Regions from separate parts of the Homo sapiens genome. Here regions 2, 3 and 4 are each linked to region 1. Evidence: fine-mapped expression QTL. A gene starts in region 1. Each other region holds a variant in brackets. All regions are shown on one strand. Distances are between the middles of the regions. Region 1 holds the start of PPP1CB (protein phosphatase 1 catalytic subunit beta). Region 2 overlaps SPDYA (speedy/RINGO cell cycle regulator family member A). Region 3 has its middle 18 kb from the start of PLB1. Region 4 overlaps PLB1 (phospholipase B1).

What was found. PIP is the estimated chance that this variant, and not a neighbour inherited with it, causes the effect. A credible set is the group of variants that fine-mapping cannot tell apart.
Region 2: its variant is the best candidate, but not a certain one, in a credible set for the expression of PPP1CB in whole blood (TOPMed, PIP 0.63).
Region 3: its variant is the best candidate, but not a certain one, in a credible set for the expression of PPP1CB in whole blood (TOPMed, PIP 0.75).
Region 4: its variant is the best candidate, but not a certain one, in a credible set for the expression of PPP1CB in whole blood (INTERVAL, PIP 0.71).

The regions. Positions count from the first base shown.
Region 1 is chr2:28,746,549-28,754,439 of GRCh38, forward strand. It overlaps PPP1CB (protein phosphatase 1 catalytic subunit beta), which reads left to right and starts at 5,282. Exons shown (of 8, transcript NM_002709.3): 1 at 5,282-5,628. The coding sequence starts at 5,577. PPP1CB-DT (PPP1CB divergent transcript) reads right to left here and starts at 5,208. Exons shown (of 5, transcript XR_007086259.1): 1 at 5,095-5,208; 2 at 2,272-3,837; 3 at 1,385-1,434. RefSeq lists enhancers at 1,704-1,783, 4,695-4,904, 5,208-5,852 and silencers at 5,035-5,224, 5,715-5,934.
Region 2 is chr2:28,846,761-28,854,651 of GRCh38, forward strand. It overlaps SPDYA (speedy/RINGO cell cycle regulator family member A), which reads left to right. Exons shown (of 8, transcript NM_182756.4): 8 at 3,090-3,850. The coding sequence ends at 3,181. TRMT61B (tRNA methyltransferase 61B) reads right to left here. Exons shown (of 7, transcript NM_017910.4): 4 at 5,648-5,739; 5 at 4,312-4,538; 6 at 3,568-3,645; 7 at 3,061-3,482. The coding sequence ends at 3,439. Among named protein-coding and RNA genes, the nearest start is that of TRMT61B, 20 kb to the right of the region's middle. The variant G/A (reference allele first, on the strand shown) is at 3,665.
Region 3 is chr2:28,473,739-28,481,629 of GRCh38, forward strand. No RefSeq gene overlaps it. Among named protein-coding and RNA genes, the nearest start is that of PLB1, 18 kb to the right of the region's middle. RefSeq lists an enhancer at 3,475-3,524. The variant G/A (reference allele first, on the strand shown) is at 4,154.
Region 4 is chr2:28,600,392-28,608,282 of GRCh38, forward strand. It overlaps PLB1 (phospholipase B1), which reads left to right. Exons shown (of 58, transcript NM_153021.5): 36 at 418-469; 37 at 861-941; 38 at 1,508-1,573; 39 at 2,430-2,530; 40 at 3,575-3,656; 41 at 4,264-4,368; 42 at 5,462-5,557; 43 at 6,105-6,176. Among named protein-coding and RNA genes, the nearest start is that of PLB1, 110 kb to the left of the region's middle. RefSeq lists enhancers at 5,886-6,517, 6,518-7,148, 7,149-7,780 and a silencer at 6,995-7,162. The variant T/G (reference allele first, on the strand shown) is at 3,097.

The DNA.
Region 1 (7,891 bases):
TATTGCCATGGACACTCTTCTATAGTTACATTAAGGACTAAATTGATTTTGCAGACTGATCTGAGAGTTTAACCACCATTTGTACCACAGTCTCTGTGGGAAAATATATTCCATGTTCCGAACAATTGACCCTTTGGAGTTGGTCCAGTTCCTGAGCTGGGGACGGCATGTACAATATTATGTTACATTTTGGGTTTTATTTGTATGTCTTAGAATCAGAGACTTGTTTGAGCTAGAAGAAGCTTTGGAAATCATTTATTAATGGGCACATTTTGTAGGTAATGAATCCAAGGTTCAGAAAGATTGAATTGTCTAAGGTTATTCAGCTGCTTTGTTCTCCCACCTCCAAGCCAATGCTTTTCCCACTATCCAAGTCATTTTGTGGTCATTTTCCCACATAGTCATTAAACAACTTGAAAGTTGGGAAGTCATGCCTTCTTCAACACAGACTCAAACTCACTAAGTGTTTCATAAATACTTAATTGGTTCATTATTCTTTTTGCTTCAGAGGTCTATTCACTGTAAGGTTTTCTTAAATAACAAGTACCATAGAGCATTTCAATTAAGAACTTATTATGATAGACTGGATTTGGTTTAAATCAAGATTTAAATAATAATTAATAAATATTCTATTTAACCAGTGTTTCCTATATAAAAGACCTATTGGTGTTGGATGTAACTCTGATGAATATATTTCACAGCTCACAAATAGTTTGGCTTTAGTTTTAACAGACATATGCTATTAATTTTAATGTGGTCTTATATATTATGAGAAGCTACTCATTTTATAACTACATAAAAAAAGTAATGCTTTCCTTGTCTTATCTACCAAAACCCAATTGAAACAGAGACATAAAAACCAGTTAGGGCCAGGTGCGGTGGCTCATGCCTGTAATCCCAGCACTTTGGGAGGCCGAGGTGGGAGGATTGCTTGAGCCCAGGAGTTCGAGACCAGCCTGACACAGCGAGACCCTGTCTCTACTAAAAATAAAAAAAAATAGCCGGGCATGGTGGCACATGCCTATGGTCTCAGCTACTACGGAGGCTGAGGCAGAAGGATTGCTTGAGCCTGAGATGTCAAAGCTGCAGTTAGCTGTGAATGAGCCACTGTATTCCAGCCTGAGTGAGGCTCTGTCTCAAAAAAAGAAAAAAAATTAAGCCATTTAGCGGTAAACCTCCAACTGAAAAGGTGAATTATATGTGATTTGGATATACTACAGGAGAAACAGAGCAACAAGAAACAAAACATTTACAGTACACTGTTTCATTTGAAACAAATATTCACATATTGTATACTTTCCCTCATCAAACAGTTATTTCCTGGTATCCATTTCAGTGAGCAGGATGGGGGGAGGGGGGAGCAATAAAAGAGAAACATTCTTACCTGTGTAGATGACTTGCTTTTATTGTAACAAAGGCAACTGGCCCTGTAATCTAATTACAAGAAAAAAAGGCCACAGATAAACTCTTCAACAATTAAATAGTCATTACTTGTGGTAGCTGTTCACCTAGCTTTAATTGCCTTATAGTTAACAGTTCTAAATAGCCAGTTAACTCCTTCAATTACTAGACATTTATTTTTCAATCACTTTATCTTGAAAGATACGGATGTACTATGGAGTTAGCTTAAGACAAACTGAGAGAGAGAGAAGAGAGAGTTGGTTGGGGCCACCGGGGAGGTTACTGACCAAGGGCAGGGAAGGAGGCATTTATTTATATTTGCCTTATAATTCTGGGGGACTAAACTGGCTGAGGACATGCCTTATGGCTTAGCTATAATTTTGGCTATTCTCATATGTATAATGAAATGAAACCAAAACTAAATCTTAAGAACAAATCTTGGCCCTGCCTGGCTGTACCACCTAGGCCTGGCTCTGTATTGAGAGAGGTGGCCTCCTAATGATGCATATATGTCCTTGTCTGGTTTTCCAATTTTCTTGAATTGAGCTGACTATAAAAGCTTAATGCATGCGATATAAAGAATGGCTGACCTCCAGATACAACTAGTAAAATTTCAACTTACCACTACTTAAGACTTATTAAACACTTGATTGAGAAGAATCATATTTATGGAAGGACAGCCCAATGAATGTTGATTCATTCATTTAAAAGTCATCTTGGATTAAGCCAGAGCAGCAAAAAACTATATATCACCCCCTCCACATTTTGCTACCTAAACTTACTCACTTTCACACCAGATTGGCTACTGGCTAATACTGACAGGCATATAAGAAAAACATCCCTATGAAAGTCTTTGCTGCGTTTACTAACCGGAGTCACCAGGCTGCTGTTTACTGTGTTCCGAAATGCCTTCTCTAAGGACTATCCATAGAGACAGCTCTCTGGTCTCAATTCAGAGATGGTTGGGTTCCTCTGAGCACTGGTTTGCCTTTATCTGATAGGCACAGACATTATCTATTAGTAAAAATAAAATAATAATTTTATTAAGACCCCTAAATCATGATGCCCAAACCCCTTGCAATCAGGAAGTCTAGATAAATAACAGGAGTTTCCCTTCATAGAGATTTCTGGAATTACCCAAGGATATTAACATGCATGACCCAGATGCCTCCCTAAGCCTTATGGTGTGCTGGCAAATGTTTAACAACCATTATTCAGAAATAAGACAGGAAAACTGCCATCTATGACTGGTAAGATTATAGGTGATTTTTGTATTTTTTTTCTTCATTTTCCCAACTTCCTTCAGGAAACACATTTTACTCTGAAGGGGGTGAGGGTGGTGGCTAATACTTGGGATTATGGTGAGCTGCCCTAGAAACTATCGGGTTATTAAGTAACACTTAATATATGTACCAGTTTCACTTCAAAATCTGAAGCATTCTGAACTCTTAATTATTTTGGAGGGATATCCCACAGAAAAGTTGGCTGAGGCCCTAGTGATAAAGCTCTTTCTTACAGTGGCCCATTCCTGCCCAAGACTCCAGGCACTGGAAAACCTGGTGGGGGTGGAGAAGGTAACATCAGCAGGCAAGTACTCGGAACCACTCTCCTATCTCCTACCTCTTCTTCTCACGACCTCCAAAACTCTGCTGAGACCGGCCTCCCTCTGCCTCACTTGTGGTGATTTTCTCTCGGATGCTCACTTTCTCTCTGTGCAATCTTTCCTTTGGGTGTCCCTTGTCTTTAAACATGTCTGCGTATACCTGAACTCTAATTGTGGACAGGGTTCAAAGTTCTTTTTCATGGGATTCATGGGCCCCATGAAAATTAGAGGCTAAGTAGGCATCTAAGTAGGAGCATTTACGTGCTCCCAGGCATTCTGTTACACTTAAAGAGGCTCATGGAAGAGATTTGGGCAAGTGGTATAACTCTACAAGCTGCTATATTCAAGTCCTAGTTCCAGCTTAGCCAAAACACCTACTCCGATTGCAACTGATCTTTTTCTTGGTTGCTAGAAAACTGAGAGTCATATGTGTGGCCTACCTCCAGCAAACCAATAGGACCTTACACCATGCATTTTGCATACAAAACTGCTGGCTTAATCTTATCTTTCACACTCACGGTTTTCTTTTGTCCTATTTTTCTCTGTACTTATTTTTAATTTACCCTGATGTACACATTTATGTAAACTACGTTAAATCCTTTCCTCTGGAATAAAGTAGGGTGTAAATAAATTTAACAAAACAACAAAGAGTGATGATGAGCCAGGTCTTCACTCCTGAAGGCCTCAAAACGAACTGGCAGTGATCTGTGAAAACTACAGAGAACTGCCCGTTCATCTCCACAGATTACTGAAGTCTGTGAAAACTACTCCAGCCAGGACCACCATTATAGCCTGCTGCCTGTTGTGTTCACAATCGATGCACAAACTCAACCCTGAAATGGAGAGAAAAATAGGGGAAAAAAGACATTAGGAAATCCTAGCTCTATGTCATCTGGACATTAGAAAGCACTTGGTTGGACAAAGCTTTTTCTCCCCCACAGCACATGCCTGTTTCAGCATCTCAGCCCACATTCACGGAGAGGGAGAATATAGCAATTGTTAAGAATGCAGACTCTAGCACTGCATGCTCTGCTGTTTATTTGTGTTATTTGGGCTAGGTTTTTTAACCGTCTGTGCCTCGGTGAATCCCATCTACAAAGTAGAGATAATAATAGTACCTACCTCACAGGGCAGTTGTAAGGATTAAATGAGGTAACCCGGGTGTAACATTTAAAACAGTGGCAGAGTACATACAGGGATCTGAACAAATGTTAGCTACTATTAGTGATATGTGAGTGGGGGAAGCACACTGCCTTGGACTTGAGGCAATATCAAGTCTGAGTTTCTGGAAAAACACTTGTGGAATAAGTAAGGGCTGGCCACCTCCTAAAACCGGACAAAAGATCTGGCTTGCCTAGATCCTTAGCGTGACTGCTTCTCCTCCTGCCTTTCTAGAGGCAGTATTACGTGATGGAAATACTTGGTGGGTGCTGTGGGCACAAAGATAAGTTAATGTGTTTTTATTCCCTAGGAGCTGAGTCGAGAGTAGGAGAAAAATGCATAAATAATTACCAGGTAGGATGATTAAGCAATATACTGGAGGCAGCAACAGAAACACACCGTGGAAAAAAAATACCCACGGCGTGGATGAAGATATGAGATGTGTGAAAGCGCTAGACACAGGCAGCCACCTGCACCCATGTAAAATTGGATTATTGCTGACTCCTACAAGGCCCACTTTAACGCTTCTTTCAACCAGAATCCCTGCAGAACTAATTTTGTAGAACCGCCGGGGATAAAGACCTTTATTTGCAATGTCGAACTCCAGCAGAGTAACCCCTTTTGCTTTCCACACGCGCAAACCCGGGTCCCAAACGCTGCAGTTCGCGTTTCCCGGCTAACGGAAGAAACACGAGGAACTGTTTGCAGATCTAGGGGATGAAGCCAAAAAACGGAAAGCGAGGCCGAAAGGGCGCAACCACCACGTCTGGAGGAGGCCAGTGAAGTAGAGAAAGGGGAAGGTCAGCCCTGCCCCAGCGCGCTCTGCGTAACCGGGACTTCCTCCGCGCGGCAAAGCCGGGGAACCTCCCTGGCGCCTGCGCCACCGTGGCGAGACTCGGCGCCGTGGACGTGGAGAGAGGGCGACGCACCTGCGCGAAGACGGCAGCGGGAGAAGCCGCTCCAGTGCGGTTGCGCGGCGGCCCAGGCGTCGAGGGGAGCCTCGGCGGGGAGCGCACCGCGCGCCTGCGCGGAGAGCTGCGTGACGCGGCGGCGCGCAAGGGACGTGCGGAGTGAGTGGCGCTGCGGGTGGGGCCGTCGGCGGCGCTGGTGAGCTTTGCGGAGCTGGGCGGTGCCGAGGAGGAGGAGGTGGCGGCCTGGGTCTGACGCGGCCCTGTTCGAGGGGGCCTCTCTTGTTTATTTATTTATTTTCCGTGGGTGCCTCCGAGTGTGCGCGCGCTCTCGCTACCCGGCGGGGAGGGGGTGGGGGGAGGGCCCGGGAAAAGGGGGAGTTGGAGCCGGGGTCGAAACGCCGCGTGACTTGTAGGTGAGAGAACGCCGAGCCGTCGCCGCAGCCTCCGCCGCCGAGAAGCCCTTGTTCCCGCTGCTGGGAAGGAGAGTCTGTGCCGACAAGATGGCGGACGGGGAGCTGAACGTGGACAGCCTCATCACCCGGCTGCTGGAGGGTGAGTGCGCGCCTGGCCGCGGGACAGAGGGAGGTCGGGCACCGCCGCCGACCCCTGCGTCCCCGTCTGCCGCCGGAACGCGAGGGGACCCCTTTCCCGCCCCGAGACGAGTCTCTGGGAGCGCGGCGCGGCGGACGAACCGAGGAGGGGGCGAGGAGGCTCTGGGCGCGGGGGAGCGGCCTCTGGGAGCGCGGTCAGGGGAGATCGGGGGAGAGGGGGCCGTTCCCGCGGACCCTCGGGGGCCAGGCCCGCCGGCCGAAGGCTGTGCGGAGCGGGTCTGCGGGAGACAGCCTTTCGGAAAGGCCGCCGGGCTCCGCGCGCCGTGGTGCTCGCCTCCGGTGACCCGAGGATGGGGAGAGGATGCCTGCCACTGGGCTTTGTGCGTCCGTGGAATCACTGTTCTTCTCTGTTCTCTTTGTGCATTGCCCTTGGCTGCCTCCGATTGTCGTTCCGGGAGTGAATTTTACGTATATATATATAAACCTGTCCTTAACAGGACTGCTTCGTCTGCTCTGCATTTTTACACAATGCTATATAGAATGGATTCTTCTTAAAGAGAGGATAAAATTAGCGGGAATTAATCTACCGTTTGTTACTTGGCCTAAAAAAATTGTAAGACAAGATATTTGATCAGGTTGAAGATGCACCTAAGAAATGTGATGTATGTAGATGGGTTTGCTGAAGGGATTGGCTTTTGCATTTGATTTGAGCAGAGCTTAATTTCTGCACAAACTTAGTGAAAATCTATTTTTAAAGCCTGTCTTGTATTCGAAAGGTATTTGTAGGTCTACGCAGCATTTGAACTTTCCGGGCTCAAGTGTTCTTATTGAATAGTTTTATGTTGGTGGGAAGGCAAGGGGGGAAAACGAAGAGGTGGACTAGCCGGGAGTTAAATGTATTGATTCATTGCAGGATATTATTCAAAGTTAAATGCAGTCTTCTGCCAAACAGTCCCTCTACCCTAAAGTTTTCGTCATCAATAATTGTTTTGTGAGTGTGTAGAAAAGCCTTTAATCCTTTTTAAACAATTTAGAGGCCTCTTTGTTAGCCGCCGTCCAGCGATTGCATATGTACTGTTTGCTTTCAAATTACCTTAAGATAATTGCTAGAGTGAAGCAGTATGTACTTATATTTGGAAAATCATCAAAGAATATTGTAATGGGGGAGGGGTAATTCCTTTTTCTCAAAGTATGTGTCGGTATCTCAAACCCAAGTTCTGTGAGTACCTGTTCTGTAACTAAATACTGTGTATTTGCTCCAGATGTGAAAGCCATCCAGCAGTCTTAAGACTGAATAGGAAGCAAAAGTTTTACCAGGAACTCTTATTTACCTTTTCCTTTACTATCAAGTTATTCCTGGGAGGCCCCCTGGTGCCTGCAGTCAGTGTTCACTACCTAAGACTTTGTTTCAGATGTGAACATCTTGCTGGGTCTTTGAGAAATTTGCTTTGAAAATAATTGTATTTTGTAACTGTTTTATGAGGGAAATACAGTTAATTTAAAAATGTGTATGTCTTGTTTACATTTGGGAAGTAGAGGCCTACTCCTTTTTATTTTTTTTTTATTTTTATTTTTTGAGACGGAGTCTCACTCTGTCGCCCAGGCTGGAGTGCAATGGCACGGTCTCAGCTCACTGCAACCTCCGCCTCCCGGGTTCGAGCGATTCTTCCGCCTCAGCCTCCTGAGTAGCTGGGATTACAGGCACCCCGCCATCATGCCCGGCTAATTTTTTTTGTATTTTTGTAGAGACGGAGGTTTCACCATCTTGGCCTGGCTGGTCTTGAACTCCTGACCTCGTGATCCACCCGCTTCAGCCTCCCAAAGGGCTGGGATTACAGGCGTGAGCCATCGCGCCCGGCATATTTTTATATATTTTAAACTTTGCTTGTAAATTTAAATATTTTAAAAATATGTTTGTATCTCAATTTATTTATATTTTATTTCATTTTCCATATATTTTGTAGGCATAAAACAGATTTATGTTTTAAAATGTTTGTATCCTTTTAAATTAGACGCACCTTTATATGATTACAGGTACTTAAACTTCACGAGTGGGTTGTGCAAGGTTACTAGAAAAGACACTGGGGGAAAAATAAGTGATTCCATTTGTTTTTGTGAATTCAAATTAAATATTTGGTTTGTACAATCTGTTTTCCTTTTTTGGGGGGGCGGGGGGGGGGCGGGTAAGAATTGTAGTCCAGATACGTTTCTCTCTTAATTTAGCAAGCGTTAACAAGTTGACCTCCTCCTTGCCAGGCACCAGC
Region 2 (7,891 bases), 100 kb after region 1:
ACACACACACACAAAGGGAAGTGAGGGGAAATGAATGGATACTGTTAAAAAGGTCTTGTTCAATTCAACATCTACTGAGCACCATGTGCCAAACAGAAACAATGTATTCTCCATGAAACAGGAGCCAAGGGCAGAACTTTTCTTGGCTCTTAAGCCAGCCCCTTCTCAAAGTAGACAATTGGGGATTGACACAAAATAGGCATTCAAAGCATTAAATGAATAACATAATTTCATTACTAGCTAAATAGAAGGGTAGAAGAAAAGGGAGTATTCCATGATGGAATTAAAAAATGGACTTCAGGCCACGTGCAGTGGCTCATTCCTGTAATCCCAGCAGTTTGGGTGGCTGAGTCGGGTGGATCACCTGAGGTCAGGAGTTTGAGATCAGCCTGGCCAACATGGTGAAACCCTATCTCTACTAAAAATACAAAAATTAGCCAGGCGTGGGAGCGTGTGTCTGTAATCCCAGCTACTTGGGAGGCTAAGACAGGAGAATTGCTTGAACCTAGGAGGTGGAGGTTGCAGTGAGCCAAGACCATGCCATTGCACTCCAGTCTGGGCAACAGAGCGAGACTCTGTCTCAAAACAAACAAACAAACAAACAAACACTTCAGAGCTTCTATATAGTCATGCGCCACATAATGACATTTCACTCAAGGTGGGACTGCATACAGGATGGTGTTCCCCTAAGATTATAATGGCTGGGCATGGTGGCTCACACCTGTAATCCTAGAACTGTGGGAGGCCGAGGCAGGTGGATGGATCACTTAAGGTCAGGAGTTTGTGACCAGCCTGGCTAACATGGTGAAACCCTGTCTCTTAAAAAAATACAAAAATTAGCCGGGCGTGATGGCACATACCTGTAATCACAGGTACTCGGGAGGCTGAGACCGGGGAATTGCTTGAACCTGGGAGTTGGAGGTTGCAGTGAGCCAAGATCGTGTCACTGCACTCCAGCCTGGGCAACAGAGCAAGACTCTGTCTCAAAAAAAAAAAAGAAAAAGAAAAAGAAAAGAAAAGAAGAAGGATGGAAGGAAAGATTATAATGGAGCTGAAAAATTCCTATCACCTACTGACATCATAGACCTGTACTGCAACACAGTACCTTTTCTATGTTTAGATACACACATACTTACCATTGTCTTATAAATGCGAATGGTAGTTAGTACAGTAACATGCTATCCAGGTTTGCAGTCTAGAAGTAGTAGGCTATACCATATAACCTAGGTGTGTAGTAGGCTATACCACCTAGGTTTGTGTAAGTACACTATGTAATGTTCACACAATGATGAAACTGCCCAACTATGCATTTAACAGAATGTACTGCCACTGTTAAGCAATGTATAACTGTATCTGGAAATGTTATAAAAGCTATAAAGGCATCATTATTATATAAATGTTCAGCTAGTTACATACAGAAATATACCACCAGAATACTCTGCTCCTGATTCAATCACTTGTCTAAATGCAGCCAGAGTGATTTTCAAAACACAGATCTAAACATGTCACCCCTTACTTAAATTCTTCAATGGAATCCCATTTTTCTTAGGATACACCAATTCCTTCACGGGCATATGAGAACTTGCATGGCCTCATCCCCATCTATCTATCCAGTCTTTTCCACTCTACCCCAGCATCACTTTTTATTCCCATTTTCCCTGCTGTAGTTAATTCCTACTTAGCATTCAGTTCTCAGCTCAATTGTCACTTGCTAGGGCAAAGTCCCCCATTATGGTTACTCATAGTACCTTGTACTTCTTTGGGGGGAATTTATAACAGTTTTAGTTTTACATCTGTGTGATTAATGTCAAGCTCTATCATAGACTATAAACTCTAAAAAGGCAGAGATTTTACTTTAAAATGTCCTACGTTCTATAATATGTTATTTAATAAAAAATTTACACACATGTATAATTTTAAATACTTCTAGCCTAAGAGATAAATCTAGGAATGGTAGCATTTACCCTCCAAGGCATTACTATTTTACAGCCCATAAAACAGGCCGGGCATGGTGGCTCCACACCTATAATCCCAGCACTTTGGGAGGTCAAGGCAGAAGGACTGCTTGAGCTTCGGAGTTTGAGACCAGCCTGGGCAACATGACAAACCCCGTCTCTACCAAAAAATCCACAAAAATTGGCTGGGCGTGGTGGCATGTGCCTGTAGTCCAACTACATGGGAAGCTGAGGTGGGAGGCTTGCTTGATCCTGGGAGATTGAGGCTGCAATGAGCCATGATCACGCCACTGCACTCCAGCCTATGTGACAGAATGAGAATCTGTCTCAAAAAAAAAAACACACACACACAACTAAAAACCTATAAAACATCTATATTTAAACAGAGACCTAATCATTCTAAGTCACTGTTTATCTGTAAAATATGGATAACCTGAAAGATAAGTTGTCCATAGTAAGTGAAAAACATATATAAAGTTTTCAAAACAATGTATGGTATGTGGTAAGTGCTAAATAACTGGTGCCTATGAATAATAAGTCCCATTTGTAATTAATTCATGTTTCCAAAATGTATTCCCCAAACATTTTTTTTTTAAGATGGAGTCTCGCCCTGTCACCCAGGCTGGAGTGCAGTGGCACAGTCGCAGCTCACTGCAACCTTCGCCTTCCAGGTTTAAGCGATTCTCCTGCCTCAGCTTCCCAAGTAGCTGGGATTACAGGTGCCCGCCACCACAACCAGCTAATTTTTGTATTTTTAGTAGAGACAAGGTTTTGCCATGTTGGCCAGACTAGTCTCGAACTCCTGACCTCAGGTGATCTGCCTGCCTTGGCCTCCCAAAGGCGTGAGCCACTGTGCCCAGCCCCCAAACATTTAATTTGTGTAGTAACACTGAATAATTCTAATGTTCTTTCAAGCTGGTTAAAAAGATTCTGAGGGGATAAAAGAGATTCAAGAGCCTGTTACATCTTTTGTTACAATTTTTAAGGTGATTATATCATTCTTAAGTTTCCCCCCATTATTTACTGTAGCCCAGATTTCCTTATTATTTTTTAAGACATATACAAGCCATTATAAGATGTATTTAAAATGGACAGATACATAAAATTTATCTTAAAATGCATATTTTATTTCAGTAGTCAATGACCATCAATCAAATAAAGGAAAGAAAACTAATTTCTTGAAGAAAGACAAATCTATGGAGTGGTTTACAGGAAGTGAAGAATGAGATGGCCCAACTAAACCAATTTGGAATCATTAACTACAAAATGTCAAACTAACTGCAAGACAAGTGTCAAAATGGGATGTTTAAGCAGTTTTGCTATGTTATACATCTTTTAGTTGTTATTTTCAAAATTATATGTATAAGTTATATAAGTCATAGTAATAGCTAAAAATGCCAATCTATGGAAGCAGTGATTTTCAATATAAAGTTCTATTTTGATATTTTTCCATCTTCAAGTCAGTTACTGTCATCTGGAGTACTCAGTTAAGTTGTGGTTTGACCTTCCTCAACTTGACAAGAAAAGCTAATTTAAGAGAAGAAAAACATAAAGTCATTATATTAATTAAAAGAAAAAACACCATTTAATATGTTCTGAAAACATTACTCACCTGTATGACCAGGTTGCCAGTGTACTGGTCTAGCAACATAGGGAAATGATCCATATGGAAAATCAGAATGCGATTCTTCTGTTGTAAAAAAATATAT[G/A]TACTATAAGCTACATAAAATATTTTCTATTTTTTTCACAAAACTGTTAAAATATGAGTTACTCTCTTTATTGTAAGTTTTTTCTTTATTTATTTCCTTGCATATGTTTTAGAGCTACTCTGCCAGTTATTATACAGAAACTATTTGTCAATGATTATGTAATAAACATATGATTTTATAACCAAATGGATAAGCCTATATCATAAATCAACTGATACTTGAAAACTTGTTCATGGCCTAAATAATGTGTATATATGACAAAGACCTAAACTCAGTTCTTTCAAGAATTCCAGCAGCATCTTAGAAGTTGCTTTTTGGAATATTAGCTATTTGCCTATCAGGTCCCATTAATAATCAGTGATCTAAATATAAAACATCCTTAATACATTTAAATTATTTCACAAACCAAGCTCCTTGTGACAAGTAAAATATGAATATTATAAAAAGCTCAATTCTTCAAAGGTATCAGAGTTTTAAGTAAAAGGCAGGAAAAGTCATTATTCTGTGCCTTATACATCTTAACAGAATAAATATCACACTTTTCTATAGAAAATTGCTGAGGAATATTTTTATAATCTATTGGTCAGTATACTCAGGAACTCATTCTCCATTCATTACTGCATGCATAAAGTAAAACTGAAGCTCACCATGGTCATCCTCTTGAAACAGCTCACCTTTAACTCCAATTTTCTCTTGAGAATCTAGTTGTACATCTGTGTTGATTTTAGATTCTACTTTTTGAGCTAAAATTCCATTTTTCTGTTTTGCAAGGCAAACCAACCAATCTCTGACAATGACCTCGCTTATCTTTTCACATGAAAGAGCAAGTTCACAGGTGCGAATTCCATCTAAAAGTTCAATAACCTGTGTGATGCTTTCAGAAAAGTGAAAAATTTACATTTCTACTAAAATAATAACATTATATTTATTTAAGTTCCCTATACCTCTTGCCCACATTTAAATACCATAGTTAAATTAAGGCAGGAGAGGGTTTAAATATGCAAGTTAGGAGGCATAAAAAGTACCTTCACAAAATTCTAAGTAAACAAACACAGAGACCATAATTTAACATTACTGTTCACATTATACTTTTAAAACATTTCTTCCAGATTGTCAGAAGAAAATATGCATCTTATATTACTATTTATGTAAAAAATGATTTAAACAGTAATATAGGGTTGGGCGTGGGTCACGCCTGTAATCCCAGCACTTTGGGAGGCTGAGGGGGGCAGATCACTTGAGGTCAGGAGTTCCAGACCAGCCTGGCCAACATGGTGAAACCCTGTCTCCACTAAAATACAAAAATTAGCCGGGTGTGGTGGCGCATACCTGTAATCCCAGCTACTCAGGAGGCTGAGGCAGGAGAATCACTTGAACCCAGGAGGCGGAGGTTGCAGCGAGCTGAGATCATGACACTGCACCCCAGCCTGGGTGACAAAGCGAGACTCTGTCTCAAAAAAAAAAAAAAAAAAAAAAACGAAAAAAGTTTAAAAAAAAAAAACACTAAATAAATATACAGTAATATAAATGAACTTGGGACTTGTCATTTTAAAACAGTTGTATAAGATGCCATATACACTTTATTCAGTTACAAAATGAATATTTTGGCTGGGCGTGGTGGCTCAAGCCTGTAAGCCCAGCACCTTGGGAGACCAGGTGAGCAGATCACCTGAAGTCAGGAGTTCAAGACCAGCCTGGCCAACATGGTGAAACCCCTTCTCTACCAAAAATAGAAAAAATCAGCCGGGCGTGGTGGCGGGCGCCTGTAACCCCAGCTACTTGGGAGGCTGAGGCAGGATAATTGCTTGAACAGGGGAGGTGGAGGTTGCAGTGAGCTGAGATCATACCACTACACTCCAACCTGGGTGACAGAGTTTTTTTCTGTCTCAAAAAAAAAAAAAAAAAAAAAAAAATTTAGTTTGATACTTAAGCAAAAGTGCACTTAAAAGTTACATTACAAAGAAAAACAGTTATATTACTCACTTTACTACATATACAGCACATACACCACCATGCTTAAGATGTGGGTAAAAAACAGGCAAAGTAACATGAGGATTTAACATATCCAAAGCTACCTGTGTGGGGGAAAAAGAGAACTGGATCAGTCTGATTCCGTTTAAATAAAGCATAAGTTTTCTTATTGTGGTGAAATGACACACTTTTGGACAGCAATCAAAGTATTTCATTTTTTAGAAGGTAGTATTATTAACTATCATTTTACCACTCCCAAAAGGGTATGTTAATTATTATACAGTTGGGCAATGTGGCTTCTGCCTGTAATCCCAACACTTTGGGAGGCTGAGGCAAGAGGATCCATTTGAGGCCGAGTTTGAGAACAGCCCAGGCAACATAGCGAGACTCTGACTCTATTGAAAAAAAAAAAAAGTAGCTGGATGCAGTGGCACAAGCCCGTAGTACCAGCTATTCAGGAAGCTGAGGTGGGAGGGTCACTGGAGCCTAGGAGTTCGAGGCTGTAGTGACCTATGACTGTGCCATCATACTCCACCCTGGGCAAGAGTGAGATCCTGTCTCAGGGAAGAAAAAACAATTTGTCATAGTACTTGATGATACTGAAAAATCATAATGATATGTCTTGTACTTTGCATATTAATATGGAAATATTGATTTGGCTATGTATGTATATATGAATATAACCAAAGAAAGATTCCTGTATGCCTGTATTATCAATATTGCCAAGTGTAAAACACGCCATTACAACATGAAAAATTTAAACATTTGAGACAATGTGAATTTCCTTTTTTTTTTTTTGAGACAGGGTCTCGCTCTGTTGACCAGGCTGGAGTACAGTGGCACAATGTCACCTCGCTGCAACTTCCACCTCCTGAACTCAAGCAACCCTCCCACCTCAGCCTCTCGAGTAGCTGAGACTACAGGCAGGCGCCACCATTCTCAGCTAACTTTTTGTATATTATGTAGATACAGGTTTTGCCATGTTGCCCAGGCTGGTCTTGAACTCCTGGATTCAAGCGATCTGCCCGCCTCGGCCTCCCAAAATGCTGGGATTACAGATGTGAACCGCTGCACCTGGCTGACAATGTGAATTTCTATTGCCAAAACTTATAAATTTAAATGCTTTATTTCAGCTTTGGCAACAGAAATTCACATTGTTGGCCAGAGGCAGTGGCTCACGCCTATAATCCCAGCACTTTGGGAGCCCAGGCGGGTGGATCACCTGAGGTCAGGAGTTTGAGAGTAGCCTGGCCAACATGGCAAAACCCTGTCTCTACTGAAAATACAAAAATTAGCCAGGTGTGGTGGTGCACACCTATAGTCCCAGCTACTGGGAAGGCTGAGGCAGGACAATTACTTGAACCCGGGAGGCAGAGGTTGCAGTAAGCCAAGATTAAACCACTGCACTCAAGCCTGGGTGACAGAGTGAGATTCTGTCTCAAAAAAAAAAATCATATCCCTTATTTCCTCTTTATTCTTGTTTCAATTGCAGTATACATGGCTATAGTCACAGAAGATGCCAGTAAGTACAAAGATAAGTGAAAATTTTTCAAATAAAAAATTAATTAAAAACAAAAAATAAATCTGGTCAAAATAGAAAATAAAGTAACATTTACTGTTGTATTAACTCCAGAAAGCTTAGAGATATGCTGGCATATCTATTTACTAAATGATAAAATATTAGATTGTTTGTGTCTTTTAAAAACAGTACTAATCAGTCAAGGGACATCTTATTAATTTATTCACCAAATATTTATTAAGCACTGTCTACATGGCAAACATTTTTCTAAGTGGTAAGGATATAGTTGGAGCTTATAGTCTGTTTCACGGGATCTAATGAAGGGGTAGACATTAAACAAAAATAAGAAAACATATAAATAAATAGGACAGAGGGTGGTGAGTGACATGAAGAAAAACAGTTATAAAGCAGAATAGGCGTGGTAACTCATGCCTGTAATGCCAGCACTTTGGGAAGCCAAGGGAGGAGGATTGCTTGAGCCAGGAGTTCCAGACCAGCATGGGCAACACAGTGAGACCCCGCATTTATAAAAATAAAAAAAATGGCAGGGTGCAGTGGCTCATGCCTGTAATCCCAGCACTTTGCGAGGCCGAGGTGAGCGGATCACCTGAGGTCACGAGTTCAAGACCAGCCTGGCCAACACGGCGAAACCCCGTTTCTACTAAAAATACAAAAATTAGCCAGGTACAGTGGTGCACACCTGTAATCCCAGCTACTTAGGAGGCTGAGGCAGGAGA
Region 3 (7,891 bases), 270 kb before region 1:
AGACGACGAAGCCACTGGGAGGAAGGAACAACTCCAGACATGCTGCCTTAAGAGCTGTAACACTCACCGCAAAGGTCTGCAGCTTCACTCCTGAGTCAGCGAGACCATGAACCCACCAGAAGGAAGAAACTCCGAACACATCCGAACATCAGAAGGAACAAACTCCGGACACGCCGCCTTTAAGAACTGTAACACTCACCGCGAGGGTCCGCGGCTTCATTCCTGAAGTCAGTGAGACCAAGAACCCACCAATTCCAGACACACCAGAGTGGTGGCTGGGCACATTGGCTCATGCCTATAATCCCAGCACTTTGGGAGGCCAAGGTGGGAGGGTCACATGAGACCAGGAGTTCAAGACCAGCTTGAGCAAAACATAGCAAGAGCCCATCTCTAAAAAAAAAAAATTTTTTTTAATTAGCCAGGCATGATGGTGTGTGCCTGTAGTACCAGTTACGCTGGAGGCTGAGGCGGGAGAATCACTTGAGCCCAGGCTCAAGGCTGCAGTGCGTTGATGGTGCCACTGCACTCCAGCCTGGATGACAGAGTGAGACTCTGTCTCTTAAAAAAAAAAATTCCAGATTGGAAATAGGTGCCCAGGGACACTGAGCTGAGGCTCTAGGGATCCCACTAAGGTCAGCAATTTTTATTTTATTTTTATTTATTGAGAAAACCCAATTTTCCAGGCCTCATATCCTTGACTTTTCAGCAGTATTCTCTATTTTAAAAACATACTTCTCTCCCTGACACAAACCTTTTACTTCTCCAATCAGTTTTTCCTCTGTCTGCACTGTAGGATTTTTTCTTATCTGCCCAGCTATTAAATATCATTAAGAGTTCCCCAGGCCCTTCCCTTCCCCCTTGTTCTCTCTCCTAGCAGGCTCTGCTGCCACAGCTTGAGTGACTGCATCTGACTCTTAGCCACTCTGGCCCAGAGTTCTCATCTGAGTTTCTGATCCATGGGTCTACCTGCCCCTCCGGCATCTCTTGAGTGTGTGTCCTAAAGGCACTGCATGCTGCTTGTGTCCACATCTGCATTGATGATTTCCCTCTGCATTCTTCCAAAATTCCCATGCCCAGTGATCCCTATGCAGGGAATGAAGTGCATCCATTCCAGTGCAAAGGTCAGAGATCTTTCGTTACCTACACACATCATCCATCAGTTTCACTTCCTGAACATCTCCTTACCCACTGTGTCTGGAATTGGTTCCTGCTGGTGGGTTCGTGGTCTGGCCGACTTCAAGAATGAAGCCGGGGACCTTCGCAGTGAGTGTTACAGCTCTTAAAGATGGCACAGACCCAAAGAGTGAGCGGTAGCAAGGTTTATTGTGAAGAGTGAAAGAACAAAGCTTCCACAGCATGGAAGGGGACCCAAGTGGGTTGCTGCTGCTGGCTGGGGTGGCCAGCTTTTATTCCCTTATTGTCCCCTCCTATGTTCCATTTCTGTCCTATCAGAGTGCCTTTTTTCAATCCTCCCCGTGATTGGCTACTTTTAGAATCCTTTCCCTTATTGGCCCCAAACTGGTGCTTTAGCTGCAAAGTGCTGATTGGTGTGTTTTACAGAGCGCTGATTGGTGCATTTTATGGAGTGCTGATTGGTGCATTTTACAATCCTCTTGTGAGACAGGGAAGTTCCCTAAGTCCCCACTCAACCCCGGAAGTCCAGCTGGCCTCACCTCCCACCACCTTCCTCCTTCTCCACCACCATGAGCCTCCTTCAGCTCTGGCTTGGAGAGTGACAGCCTCCTGACTGGGCTCCTGGCTCTGTCCTTATCTCCCAGCCTTCCCTTCTCCATGCAGCTATCTGTCAGCTTTTGAAAACATGAAGCAGGTCCTGTCACTTTCCCACTTACAACCCTTTACCAGCCTCTTCTTCCTCTTAGAATAAAGGCCCAGATGTTACCAAGGCCTAGGGGGCTCCTGCTGACCTCTCCTGCCTCAAGCTCCCTTCATTCTGCATTACAGCCACCTGGTCTTTCCTGGAATTCCCCAAGATCCTACTAATCACAGAGCTGTGCAAAGAGCCTAGGAGAGGCACCTGCTGGTATGTTTCCATATTATCATTTTATATTCATTTGTGAAATTCTTTGATGAATGCCTCTCTACAGTGCTTAGAATATAGAAACTTTCCTTTGCCCCATTTTAAGATTTGAGAATGCATGTGTCATGAAAGCTTCTCATCAGAGGCCCAGATCCTTCAGGTACCAGACCCCATGTATCCAGGCGGATCCCACCTGGGAGCCCAGGCAGCCCAGGGCTTCTGAAATAACAACACCTGGCCTGGCATGGTGACTCACGCCTGTAATCCCAGCACTTTGGGAGGCTGAGGCGGGTGGATCACCTGAGGTCAGGAGTTCGAGACCAGCCTGGCCAACATGGTGAAACCCTGTCTCTACTAAAAATACAAAAAAAAAAGTAGCCGGGCGTGGTGGCAGGCGCCTGTAATCCCAGCTACTTGGGAAACTGAGGCAGGAGAATTGCTCCAACCCAGGAGGTGGAGGTTGCAGTGAGCCGAGATCATGCCATTGCACTCCAGCCTGGGAGACAAGAGCGAGACTTTATCTCAAAAAATAAATAAATAAATAAATAAATAAATAAACAAAAACAAAAAAAAAACAAAACAAACAGAAATAGCAACACCTGATAGCATGTCCCTTCAGAGACCCTGCCCCAGCCATGAGGTCAGTGGCCATACCTGGCGTATGGAATACAAGTTCCATGAGGTCAGTGGCCACGCCTGGCATATAGAATATAAGTTCTTTGAGGTCAGTGGGCACACCTGGCATATGGAAGTGGCACAGTAAACATGTGTTGACCTCAGGCTCCTCTCAGGGAGGATGCCTCTGGGTTCAGGTCACTGAGTTTTGCAGGGGAGGTGCATATTGTCCTTGAGTGCCGGGTAAGGTTTGGGCACCTGGAGCACCAGGGGTCAGTGAGAGGGAGGCGAGAGGGCCTGGAACACAAGGCTCCAGGGAGGTGATGGCCACAGGGGAAGGGAAGAAATGCTGATTGAGGACTGGGCCTTGAATTGGGGAAAGAATTGTTTTATTTGCCACCCATATGAGAAAGGAGGAGGGGAGAGGCCTGCAGGAAAGGAGAGTCCACCTTGAGGATTTATTGCAAGGTGAGTGGCCCTATGTTCTCTGTAAATCACTACTACACACTTGGGACTGAGGCACATCGTTTTTAAGACATCTGCTGACTTGGACAATTATAGGGAGCCTTGAGGTCTTTTAGCAGGTGGGGTCTAACTGGCAGAAGCAACTGAGAGGCTCAAGGAGAGGAGAAGGCTTCTCCTCTGCGCTGTGCCCAGCATGGCTGGGACAGGGTCCCTGAGCCCCCAGCGGACATGCTATCAGGTGTTGCTATTTCAGAAGCCCTTGGGCTGCCTGGGTTCCTAAGTGGGATCCACCTGGATACATGGGGTCTGGTACCTGGAGGATCCAGGCCTCTGATGAGAAGCTTTCATGACACATGCATTCTCAAATCTTAAAATGGGGCAAGGGAAAGTTTCAGATCAGACAAGCTGGGCTGCAGCATGAAACCAAAAGAGATAGAGAGAGGCCCCAGGCTTAATGCCTGGTGGAGGCTCAGTCATGTCTGTTGAAACCTAGGATATTCATCTATGTAGGCAGATAGGAAACACAGGTGACCACCTTCCCAAACAAGCTGGGCACATGACAGAAGCAGAAAGCACCTTATCCTCTCCAGCAAACCATTCTTCGGACCCATTCTGCCCCGCAGAAAAACCCCAGGCAGCTCCCATCCTTTTCTGACCACTCTCATGTAATAAAATATCTAGCCCCATGTGATGTCAAACCTCAAGCTCTGTTCCATTGAAAATGTCTCTGCCAAGCCCATTCAGGCTGGGGAAGCTGCAAGGGCAGAGAACTGTCTCCTTCTCTTACTTCTCTGTTCACCTTTTCTCCCCAGGCTGCTCCAGGGGTGGAGGAGACAGGAAGAAAGCAGAGGGAGGCCAGGAAGGGCTAGCTTGACCTTTTGCAGCTGTATCTGGCATTAGTGCCCTTGGACATGGCAGATTGCAGAGTTAGTTCTGCCCTAGGAGTCTGTGGTTGCTCTGAAGCCTCTCGAATTGCTGAGGCTTCAGTCAACAGACGTGGCTGCCTCCTTGGCCTGGCCACATAAGATCTCTCAG[G/A]CTCCCATCAGCCCTCACCTCACCCCTTCTGAGTCTGCTTCTGCAGGTTCTGTATCTGGCCCCCACGCCCATCCCTGCTCCCCTAAACCCTGGAGGCACAGGCTCTTCTAAGACAGCCCCTCTTTACCCAGCCACTCCCTCTCACACAGGGGCTTTTTCAAGGGTGGGTCGGTCAATCCGTTCCTGTGTTCCTCAAATTTCAGGGGATGCCTGACACATTCTTTGATATCCCCTACAGCCCATTGATCACTTCCCTTCAGAGAAATCCTCACCATGTGCCCCATGCCCCTTCAGTCTCCCAAAGAGTTGGAGGTGGGTGATAGACTGAGGATGGCATGATTGATTTCACAGACCCTTACTCAAGTAGCACAGTGGTCCTGCATCCCAACTTAGGAAACAGTGTGTTTGGCACCTTCTGAATTGCTCTAGGACTTTAGGGGCTCTGCCCAGACAACAGGAAGAGTTACTTTTATCCTTCTATTTCATGAACATCATAAAAGGCAAGGAGGTGTAAAAAAGTGAGGGCAGGAGAGTTAGGCAAGTCCAGGAGAGAGTTCAGAGCAGGACAGGAGTCAATAGAAGTTGTTGAGAAGGAAGAGGGGCCAATGGGAGCCGTAGAGAGGACACTAAGCTGATATTTACATGGCACTTTGGCCCTGCGAAGGGTCTTACATCATCTCATTGAGATATTCAAAAATACTGGGGGAAGGATATTATTCCCATTTTAGCAATGAGAAAACTGAAGCCCCCCACAGGGCAAATGATTCATAGTATAAATAGCAGAATTGGGATGTCAGCCAAGTCAATATATCACCCAATCACCTAGAAAGTTCCAACTGTTCTCTTACCTCCTTAAAAAATGTCTAGTTATTCAAGCAGTACTGGAATACATCCTTGAAGCAAAATATGTATAGACAACTTTTTTTTTTTTGAGATGGAATCCCACTCTTGTTGCCCAGGCTGGAGTGCCGTGGCACAATCTCAGCTCACTGCTACCTGCGCCTCTCAGGTTCAAGCAATTCTCATGCCTCATCCTCCCGAGTAGCTGGGATTACAGGCACCCGCCACCACGCCCGGCTAATTTTTGTATTTTTAGTAGAGGCGGGATTTCACCATGTTGGCCAGGCTTGTCTTGAACTCCTGACCTCAGCTGATCCACCCGCCTTGACCTCCCAAAGTGCTGGGATTACAGGCGTAAGCCACTGAGCCCAGCCTGTATAGACAACTTTAATAAGGCTAAAGACCTTTAGACCGCCAATCCCCAAGCAGAGGTAACCTGGTAACCACTTATATGACTTTTTAATATCCTTATAAGCCTTTTCTTCTATATGTATTACATATGCACACACACATACACACATGCATATGTAGTTTCCCATAGAAAAATATAGTATTTGATTGGTATCTCACTGTTCTTACCTGTCAGCTTCTTAGTTTTTTCACTCAACATTATATTAGGTTGGTGCAAAAGTAATTGCAGTTTTTTTTGCCATTAAAGTAATGCTGCAATTACTTATGCACCAACCTAATAATCCTGAAAAGCTTTGTGAATCTGTGTGGCTCCACCTCATTCTTCTTCATTCCTGTGTATCCTATAGTGTGGCTATTCCACAGCTTATTAGGACACTCTCTGATGATGGACAATGAAATAGTTCCCAGTATTTCAAAGCACAATGTATTGTTTAAAGAACAGGAACATTGGCCGGGTACGGTGGTTCACGCCTGTAATCCCAGCTCTTTGGGAGGCTGAGGTGGGTGGATCACCTGAGGTCAGGAGTTCAAGACCAGCCTGGCCAATATGACAAAACCCTGTCTCTACTAAAAATACAAAAATTAACCGAGCCATGGTGATGTGCACCTGACCTGTAATCCCAGCTACTCAGGAGGCTGAGGCAGGAGAATCGCTTGAACCCAGGAGGCAGAGGTTGCAGTGAGCCGAGATCGTGCCACTGCACTCCAGCCTGGCGACAACGGAAAGAGACTCCATCTCAAAAACAAACAAAAAACCAAAAAACAGGAACGTTGCAGAATCCTGTGTGCCTGTCTCATTGCTCAAGAGGGGCTTAGATGAGTCCTGCTTGATAATGAGAAGCAACCAAAGGTGGGAGGGTGGGGAATGCCCCCAAACCATCCCAAGATGGGGCTGGCTGGAATTCCCGAGAAAGAAGCACTAGCCAGGCAGTCTGAGTATGGGAGTTTATACGAAGATTTAAGGAATTTGGCTTAAGGCTGGGGCCAGTTTCTTTCAGTGTTTTAGGCAACAAGCTAGATACCTTCATCAGTGCCTGGAAATGTTCAAGGCCAAAGTTTGGGTTCAAGCCTGCTGGGAAAACCTGCAGCTGGCTGTGTCATAGAGCAGTCAAGGTGTGGCTGTGACTTTTGGCCAGGACATGGAAAGAAAGCAATGGGAACTGGGGGACCCTACATGATGTTCTGACCAATGTGTGAATTCATTGGCAGAAATCTGGTGTATTAGTCAGTCTTCATGCTGCTGATAAAGACATACCCAAGACTGGGTGATTTAGAAAGAAAAGGAAGTTTAATGGACTCATAGTTCCACGTGGCTGGGGAGGCTTCACAATCGTGGTGGAAGGTGAAAGGCAAGTCTTGCATGGCAGCTGGCAAGAGAGAATGAGAACCAAGTGAAAGGGGTTTCCTTGTATGAAACCATCAGATCTCGTGAAACTTATTCACTATCATAAGAACAGTATGGGGGAAACCACACCATGATTCAGTTATCTCCCACCAGGCCCCTCCCACAACACATGGGAATTATGGGAGCTACAATTCAAGATGAGATTTGGGTGGGGACACAGGCAAACCATATCATTTGGCAAGCCTGGATTATAGGCCTCTGGGAGATTCTGAATTCAAGGGGTGTGTCTGCCTTGTCAGTATTCAGGGAAATCTTTGACAATAGCTCTTAGATTAGGGCTCTATGGTAGAAGGCATGTCTGATTCACAAACGGTGGTTTTAAACATTATTATTGTGGTAAATACACATAACATGAAAGTTACCATCTTAACCAATTTTACATGTGCAGTTCAGTGGCCTTTAATGCATTCAAAATGTGCAAACACCACTAGCGTTCATCTCTGTAACTCTTTTCATCTTGTAAAAATGACACTCTACAGCCATTAAACAGTAACTCTCCTTTCCTGCCTCCCTCCAGTCCCTGGCCACCACCATTCTACTTTCCGTCACTACAATTTTGACTATTCTGAGTGCCTCATATAAGTGGAATCATATAGGATTTGTCCTTTTGTGACTGGATCATTTCACTCAGCATAATGTCCTCAAGATTCATCCACGTTGGCCAGGCACAGTGGCTCATGCCTGTAATCCCAGCACTTTTGGAGGCCAGGGCAGGAGGATTGCTTGAGCCCAGGAATTTGAGACCAGCCTGGACTTGAATATAGTGAGACTCTGTCTCCATAAAAAATAAAAAAATAAGAATTAGCTGAGTATAGTGGTTGTCACGCGTGTCCGTGTGATGAGACCACCAAACAGGCTTTATGTGAGCAACAAGGCTATTTATTTCACCTGGGTGCAGGTGGGCTGAGTCCGAAAAGAGAGTCAGCAAAGAGTGGTGGGATTATCATTAGTTCTTATAGGTTTTGGGATAGGCAGTGGAGTTAGGAGCGCTGTTTTGCAGGCAGGGGATGGATCTCACAAAGTACATTCTCAAGGGTGGGGAGAATTACAAAGAACCTTCTTAAGGGTGGGGGAGATTACAA
Region 4 (7,891 bases), 150 kb before region 1:
TGAGCATCAAACTCAGCTTCCTGGCAGCCAGAGTGAAAAGAGGAAGCATGCTAGAAGTTTCATAGGTCTAATTTTAGGATCTAAACTAGTCTTCCAAAGGAGATGAATGGTCTCTTAGCATGGAATCCTAAAGGCCCTTTTGCATGTGGAGTCCCAGAAAGGTGACCATGAGCAACAAATATAATTGGCAGTACTTTGACTACAGCTGTAGGACAAACACATCATTGGCTTTTCAAATGATTATCTGTTGTAATAACTTTCCAGAAGAGGCAAGTCACTCCTGGTTTCTGAGCCTCGGGATCTCTGCCAGCTCATGCAGTGGGGATGATACTGTAGAAGCCTCTGGTTCAGGCCCTCTAGGAGGAAAACTATGGGCACTGTTCCTCAACAGAAGGATGGGTTTTCTCTCTTTCTCAGGGATCTTATGAGCCAAGTCCAAACTCTGATGCAGAAGATGAAAGATGATCATGTGAGTCAGATTTACTGTTATTTCTAAACATTAATTTTCTAACCCACTAAAGTTGTCTCCAAACGGAGTGGCCTGCTCTGAAAAGCAGTGAGCCCCATGTTATTAGAGGCATTCAAGCAGTGGTCGGACAGCCCCCTGACAGAGGTCCTGTGGAGGAGGGTATGTCAATGGAGAGAGCTTTGTTGCTGGGTACAGCGACACTGAAAATCCCTCCTGATGCTAAGAGTCTGTGGTCTATAAATAAACCTCTAAAATTCCTTCAGTTCAGAGATGCTGATTCCATTATTTCAAGTGGGCAAGGATGTTATAGAGGGTTGAATGGATTTCCTAGGGCAGGGATATTTTCATTTCCTTGTTGGAAATTATCAAGCATTTTCCTCCCTCCATATAGAGAGTAAATTTCCATGAAGACTGGAAGGTCATCACAGTGCTGATCGGAGGCAGCGATTTATGTGACTACTGCACAGATTCGGTAATTGGGGCCAGGTCCAGGCCTACTTGTTGTTCCTAACTTTGCCCAGTAGGCGTTGGAGATCTTCCCTGAGAACAGTTCCTAAAACCAATCCTAGGATTATCCACCTACACCTATGTCTGCACATATACACATACCACACACACACACACACACACACACACACACTTCTTACCCCACCACCCTCCAGGTCCTTGGCACCATCTCCATGTCCTAGGTGGTGAGGTAGCAGGTGGCAGATATATGGTATTTCTACTCCTCTCTCTTATAACTCCTGAGAATTCAGAAAGAGGAAACTGTAGCAAGCAATTGGAAGGAGGAGTCTCCACTTTCTGCTCCTGAACCAAAGCTCTGGCTGAAGGTTCCAGTCTTCCCACTGGCCCATCTTTGACAACAGCAAGTAGTCAACTGTTCATCTCAGATTTTGACATGGTGAGCTGGCCACAGCTGGAGGCTAGAGGGGGAACAAGTCCTCAGGGCTGGAGCCAGAAGGGAAGTTGAGAACTGCCCCACTGCCCTCCCACCCTAACCAGTTCCTCCTTTTCCTCCTTCCTGTCTCTTTCTAGAATCTGTATTCTGCAGCCAACTTTGTTCACCATCTCCGCAATGCCTTGGACGTCCTGCATAGAGAGGTGGGTGGGGGGCTTCCACAAGCTGGTAACAGCTCAAGCATGGTGAGGGTGAAGGTGGATGGGGGGAAAGAATGAGAGAAGAACCCCTTTCTCTCAAGGAGACAGCCAGGGGCATGGACTCCTTCCCTTTTCAGAGGTTGGGGTCTAACCCCAAGGAAACCTTATTTTATATGGAATCAGCCCAGAAGGGCCTCAGGTCTGAAGGAGGGAAGGCTGTTCCCTCACCACTACATGGGACACTCCTTGGTGGAATTGTCTAATGTCTCCCCACTACTATCCGGGACATTTTCTGGTGGTGGCAGCCAGGTGGCCCCCAGGCTGGGCACTGCCTTCTGAGCCACAGGGTGTGTCTAGAGCAAGCCCCTGTCTGGTCCTGCACCCAGCAGCACATTCCCCCTCCACCACCACCATCTTCTGGCAAGGACAAGCTGCCCTGGCTGCGTGAGACAGGGCACTCTGACCACCAGATGCTCCCCTGTGGGGGTTGAGTCTGCGTGCCTACTCAGCAGAGTTAGGCCAGTTTGGGCTGGAGGGAAGAGGTTGCCTATCTCACCGAAGGTAATTCTAATGTATCTGGGCTTGCTACATGATGGCTAAACAGAGATGATCTCTTAGTCTTTATTGTCCCACTCCAGGAGGTGCCATTGCCGCTGCAGCCCCTTTGGGTGGCACCCATGGAGTTGTGTGATGTACGGCCTGTAAGGCCCTACGAGGTAGCCCTGTATAGACTCCTCCCCAGAACTCAACTCCAGAAAGACCAAGCTGGATTGCTAAAGGAACCCATTCCTAGGGGCCCTGAGACAGCCCCAGGAAGAAGTGCCTGGAGCCCCCCTCTCATCTGCAGCTTTTCCCTTAGGTGCCCAGAGTCCTGGTCAACCTCGTGGACTTCCTGAACCCCACTATCATGCGGCAGGTGTTCCTGGGAAACCCAGACAAGTGCCCAGTGCAGCAGGCCAGGTAGGCAGGTCCTGGCTGTCCCCACACTGGAGATGCCCTCACCTCCTGGTCTGGCCCACATGCAGTGGTGATGCCTCAGGGTCTTTGTGACTTGGTCTATCCATGTGTCCAAGTCTGTAAAGGAGGACTTCTGCCAGAACGTCCCCTTCCAGAGGCTGGAGCCATGACTCCCCTGTTACCCAACTTCAAGGTGCCTGGCAGGAACTTCTATGATACCAGGCAGCCACAGAGGGGAGGGATCAAAGTTGGGACAGAGGCTGGTGTTTGAGAGACAGGATAGCCTAGACTGTGAACATGGGCAGTGGTTAGGGAAGTAGACATATGTGGTCAAACTGTAACAGAAAGCAAGGAAAAGGTACAAGCAACTCAGTTACCTTTAGGGGAAGAAGAGAATTAGGAGGGACACAGGGAGCTTCAAACTGGGAGTGTTTTGTTTCTTAAACTGGGCCATAAGTACATGGATGTGTGTTTTATTATTCTTTATATCTTACACATCTATTTACTCAGCAAATCTTACAGAACTTCCTGTGTACCAGGCATTGTTTCAAGTGCTTTAGAAATCTCTC[T/G]CTTAAGTAGATGTGATGGGTGTGAAATAATTCATGATGAAACCAAAGGGGACACAGTAGGGCACTCATGTGAAAGAAGGAGAGGTCTAAGGCATAGCATCAGAGGCCCCAAAATATCAGCTCCAACACCAGAGGATGCATTTTCTTTTTAATTAAACACTAAATTTTCACTGCCCAAATTCATTTGCTCAGCTGAATAATCGGTTGCAGGCCCAGCACCTGCAGTCCAACACTTGTGCTCTGTTGGTATGAGAGGGTGCTCATTCCCACACTGGCTCCCTCCCTCGGGCCATCTCCAGTGCCCCTGCCAGGCCTGAAGCCTGCCCCTGAGCATGTGCGCCAGAGCCTCAAGGCTTGAGTGCTCCTAAACCAGGGCGGGAGGGAGCCTCTCCACCCCTCCCCTGAACCTGGGCAATCAGAACCAGCCCCTGATGGAAGCCTGAGCTCTGGGGCCTCCTGCCTCCCCCTCTTTGTGCAGCGTTTTGTGTAACTGCGTTCTGACCCTGCGGGAGAACTCCCAAGAGCTAGCCAGGCTGGAGGCCTTCAGCCGAGCCTACCGGGTAAGACCAAGAAGGGCACCATGCTGTGTCCTCTCCCCTACGTTCACTCTAACACACAGCCCAGAGCCCCTAGAGGAGGCACACAGGGAAGGAAAAGCTGGTCAGGGATTGTGGGGAGACGGGGAGCAGCCTGGGTGCCTTCCTCTGTCTCACGTGACTGTGGTGTCTCAGGTGCCCTGGTTGGAATCATCCCAGTAGGATCCAGGTGGAAAAGCCCTCATGGCCCAGCTACCGTTGAGGGCTTAACCCCAACTCCTGGCCCGTAGCCCTGGATGCCTCATGAGACCACCTTTCCCTCCCCCACTCCCACTCCAAAGGCAGGTGCCGAGCCTCTGGAGGTTCTTCCCAGGTTTTTATCCCTTTTGGGACTTCCTGCCTAGCCCTTCAGAGAGAGTAGTCTACTTACAATCAAAACAAAAAGGTGACCCAACCTGTTTCCAAATTCTCTGGAAAGGGACTTGCCCTCAGGTGATTTGTGTTCTCAAGGGAAAGGCTGAGTCGGCCCCTCCATCCAGGGAGATGGACTGCCCACCACCCCTACTCTTGCCTCACTGGGTCCTGGGCCCACCCAGGGCCTGGGCTGAAGACCCTGTGCATGTGTCCCCAGAGCAGCATGCGCGAGCTGGTGGGGTCAGGCCGCTATGACACGCAGGAGGACTTCTCTGTGGTGCTGCAGCCCTTCTTCCAGAACATCCAGCTCCCTGTCCTGGCGGTATGTCCCCTGCCCTCACCCATGGTACTCTTTTAGAGGAAGAAATGCAAGGCAGAATTGCCAGTTGCTTCCACGAGCATGTGCATAAAATGGGAAAGACACAGCTCTCCAGACGCTGTGCTGGCAGGTGCAGGCTCCCTGAACGCCTGAGCCACATCCGTATGTGCGAGGCTCCCATGACCCCTGTAACAGCCTCCATTGTGTTGAGCACCTACTAGTGCCAGGCACTGTGCTTCCCATAGATAAAACTGTCACATCTGCCTTTGGAAATGAGTGTGATCATCCGCATGGAACACAGGTGCAGAGATGTGAAGCGTCCTTCCTAAGATCATTTAGGAAATAAGGGACAGGGAGGCCAACATGAACACAGCCAGCTCCAGATGACTAGTTTTCTGCCACGCACGTGGTCTCTCTCGTGTGCAACGCTGCGGTTATAAGGGAGCATTCTGGGGGTTCTCTGTTTCCACCCAGGCCATGCCCTTTGCCTGGCACTTCCACTCTGAACAGAAGAGATCTGTGAGTGGACCAGGTGAGGACTGAGGTCTGTCCCCCTGGGCTGCCATCCCAAGAGCCTCACCTAACTGGAAAGCAGGAAGGAGAGCAGCTCTATGCACCCCCAGCACCTCCAGATGAAGAGGCTGGAGTCAGGGGACCCAACTACCCAGGCCTTCCCCAAGGCTTTGTTCCATTCTCCCCACCAAGACTACCAGGACCAGCAGACCAAAAGCTGGGAAGTAGCTTTTCCCAGCTGGCTGGGCTAAGACTCTCTGCGGGACCAGGATCCCACTCCTTCATCTGTGGCATGGCCTCGGGCATTACATGAATGTGCCCAAAAATAAATACGACACTTCTAATTGAATAAGGGGCACTTGTAGGGTCAAAAAGGAAGGTTGGGGGTTGGCGTCACCCAAAACTATTCTTTGTGGGATCGCTCTGATCTCTCTGTTAAGGTGAATGGGCCCTGTGGTGGCTGGTGACCTGGAGCACTCCAGGGGAAGGAAGGTGTTGAGTGGTCAGTCCCAGGGCCAAGTCCGCTGGTGGTGGCTCCCTCTGAACCAATAGGATCTTGAGGGGGTATATTGGTCTCTTTCAGGATGGGCTCCCAGATACGTCCTTCTTTGCCCCAGACTGCATCCACCCAAATCAGAAATTCCACTCCCAGCTGGCCAGAGCCCTTTGGACCAATATGGTAAAATAAGTGGGGTGTTCCTTGTTCTCTGGGGTTCTAGTCTAGGGCAGGGCACCAGCCCCTATAGAATGGAGTCTTGCAAGTGAGGCTGAGGGGGCAGTGGCTGGTACATCTATAAACGTCTATGCAGTTGGAAATGCGGAGTCCTTAAGAGTCTGCTCAGCCTGGGCTCAACTGCACCCTCTCCTCAGAGCTTTGAACTCTGAGGAGGGACCTCTCTACAGAAATGCAAGCCCAAAACCCCATATTCATTCCACTTTCCCTATGTGCCGGCCACCATGTTAGGCAGTTTAAGCCACGTTATCTCATTTAAGGCTCTGCATATCCCTGCTAGAGAAGCATGACGAGTCTCCAAGGAAGCTACTCCCAGAGAAGCAAAGCGACTGGCCCAAAACCCCACGGCTGGCAACTGGCAGAGCCAGAAGTGGGAGCCAAGCCCCCTGAAATCGAGTTCTGAGCTTTCCCCACTGCAGGATTCTGCCAGGGAATGTTCACTTCCATGGAAACAAACTACTACACCCGTGTCTCTCTTTTCTTCCCTGATCAGCTTGAACCACTTGGAAGCAAAACAGAGACCCTGGACCTGAGAGCAGAGATGCCCATCACCTGTCCCACTCAGGTAGTAGGGGAGGACCTGCCTGGCTCCTCTCCACAAACCAGGGCACACAGCTCGCCCTACCCACTTCGTCCTCCACCACAGCTTCCTCAGTACCCATCTTGCCCCCTTACTGAGGCCTGAGAGATTTGGAGGATGGAGGGGAGTCCATGAGGATGGACAGGGGAGGTGAGAGGGGAGACAAGAGTGCAGCTGTCATTGGGAACAGGAGATGCAGCAGGGAGAGGAGGCCTGGGCCCCAGCAGAGGGAGAGGATCCCGGTGAGAAAAGTGGGCTCCTGAGAGAGGAAATCAGGATGCCAGGAAAATGGCAGGAGGGCTTCTCTTAGCAGTGGTGTTTGGGGCAGATGAAAAAATCTGACTGCAGGTTAGAGGGCCCAGGCAGGAGCCAGGCAGGCTTAAGAGCTGTGGTTGGAGAGAGGAGAGCCTGGATTAGGGAGATTCCACAAGGAAAGGATCACAGAGGACAGCAGCAAAGGGCAGAGCCCAGAGCTGTATGGAGGAGGGACGAGGGTGGGCCTACCAGGACACGGCAGCTCCAGGCTCCTTTTAAGGAGGAATCCGTAAGTGGTTGTTAAGCTTGACTTCAGGCCTGGGGTGGGGGCAGGTTCTCATTGTCTTCAGCTCCTGTTTCTAGGCCCGGTCTTATGGCTTTTTAACCAAATAAGGCCAAGGCCAGAAAACCCTCAGCAGCAATAAAAGCAGAAGGCCTGACCCAATCTGGGAGGCTGGGTTTCCCTCCTAGGTCGGCCACACCACCCTCTCCCACCCTCCCTGCTGGGGAATGGACCTGCAGCTCCCCCATGTGTCTGCTGGGAATCCTGAGAGAGTGGGCACCCCTGTTCACATGCCTGCTCCCTGTCTGCTGCCTGCCCTACCCCAGTCTTGGGCTCAGGCTCAGTCTTGTGTGCCATCAGCCCCATCAGGAGAGCAAGAATGGCAGGAAGAAGGGATGGGAAGTGAAGACAGTCGTAGCAGAGGGCTCAGTTGCTGGGTCTTGTGCTTGGAGCTAAGGAGATTGTCAGATTCTGCAACAGCTAGTGCAACACAGATGCCTCTAGTCCAGGTGGTCAGGTGCTGGCCAAAGGCCTGGAGCAAAACCTTAGAGGCCCCTACTGTGCCAGGTGTAAACTCTTTAACTGCTTTCCTAAGGATGCCTGGGGGTTCTAGGGGAGCAGCCAGGGACCGTGGATAGTGGGGGCATTTGGGGACTCAGAAATAGCCATATTGTAGATATGTCAATATTTTACCAACCCTATAGCCATACTGAATATCAGCCATGGAGGGCCCTTTCCAAACTGTCCACTCCCCTTCCATTACATAACAAAAGCAGCCATCATTTGCTCTTTCTTTCAACAAACGTGTATTGAGTACTGAGTTGGAGCCTAAGCACTGGGTCAGGGAGAGCCCTGTCACCCTGGGCTTCGAGGCAACCACTTCCAGGCTTTACCCCAGATCAGGCAGAGACCCCCAAAAGGAGGCTGCTCCACCCAGCAGCATCTTAAGCTGAGTGGGCTCAGTGCCTCCCTTCTAGACAGAGCCCAATGGAGCCACTGCACTGATTTGCAGAGGTGAGCAGATCCAGCCTCGTGGAACCAGTAGAAGCCCAGCCCTGGTGAAGCTGTTGCTAAGCAACATTGGAGCCCATTCTGAAAGGGTCCATCTGTTGGCCAGCCCAACTTCACTGTGTTCTGAGCATTCTGCATTCCTCAGTCCCAT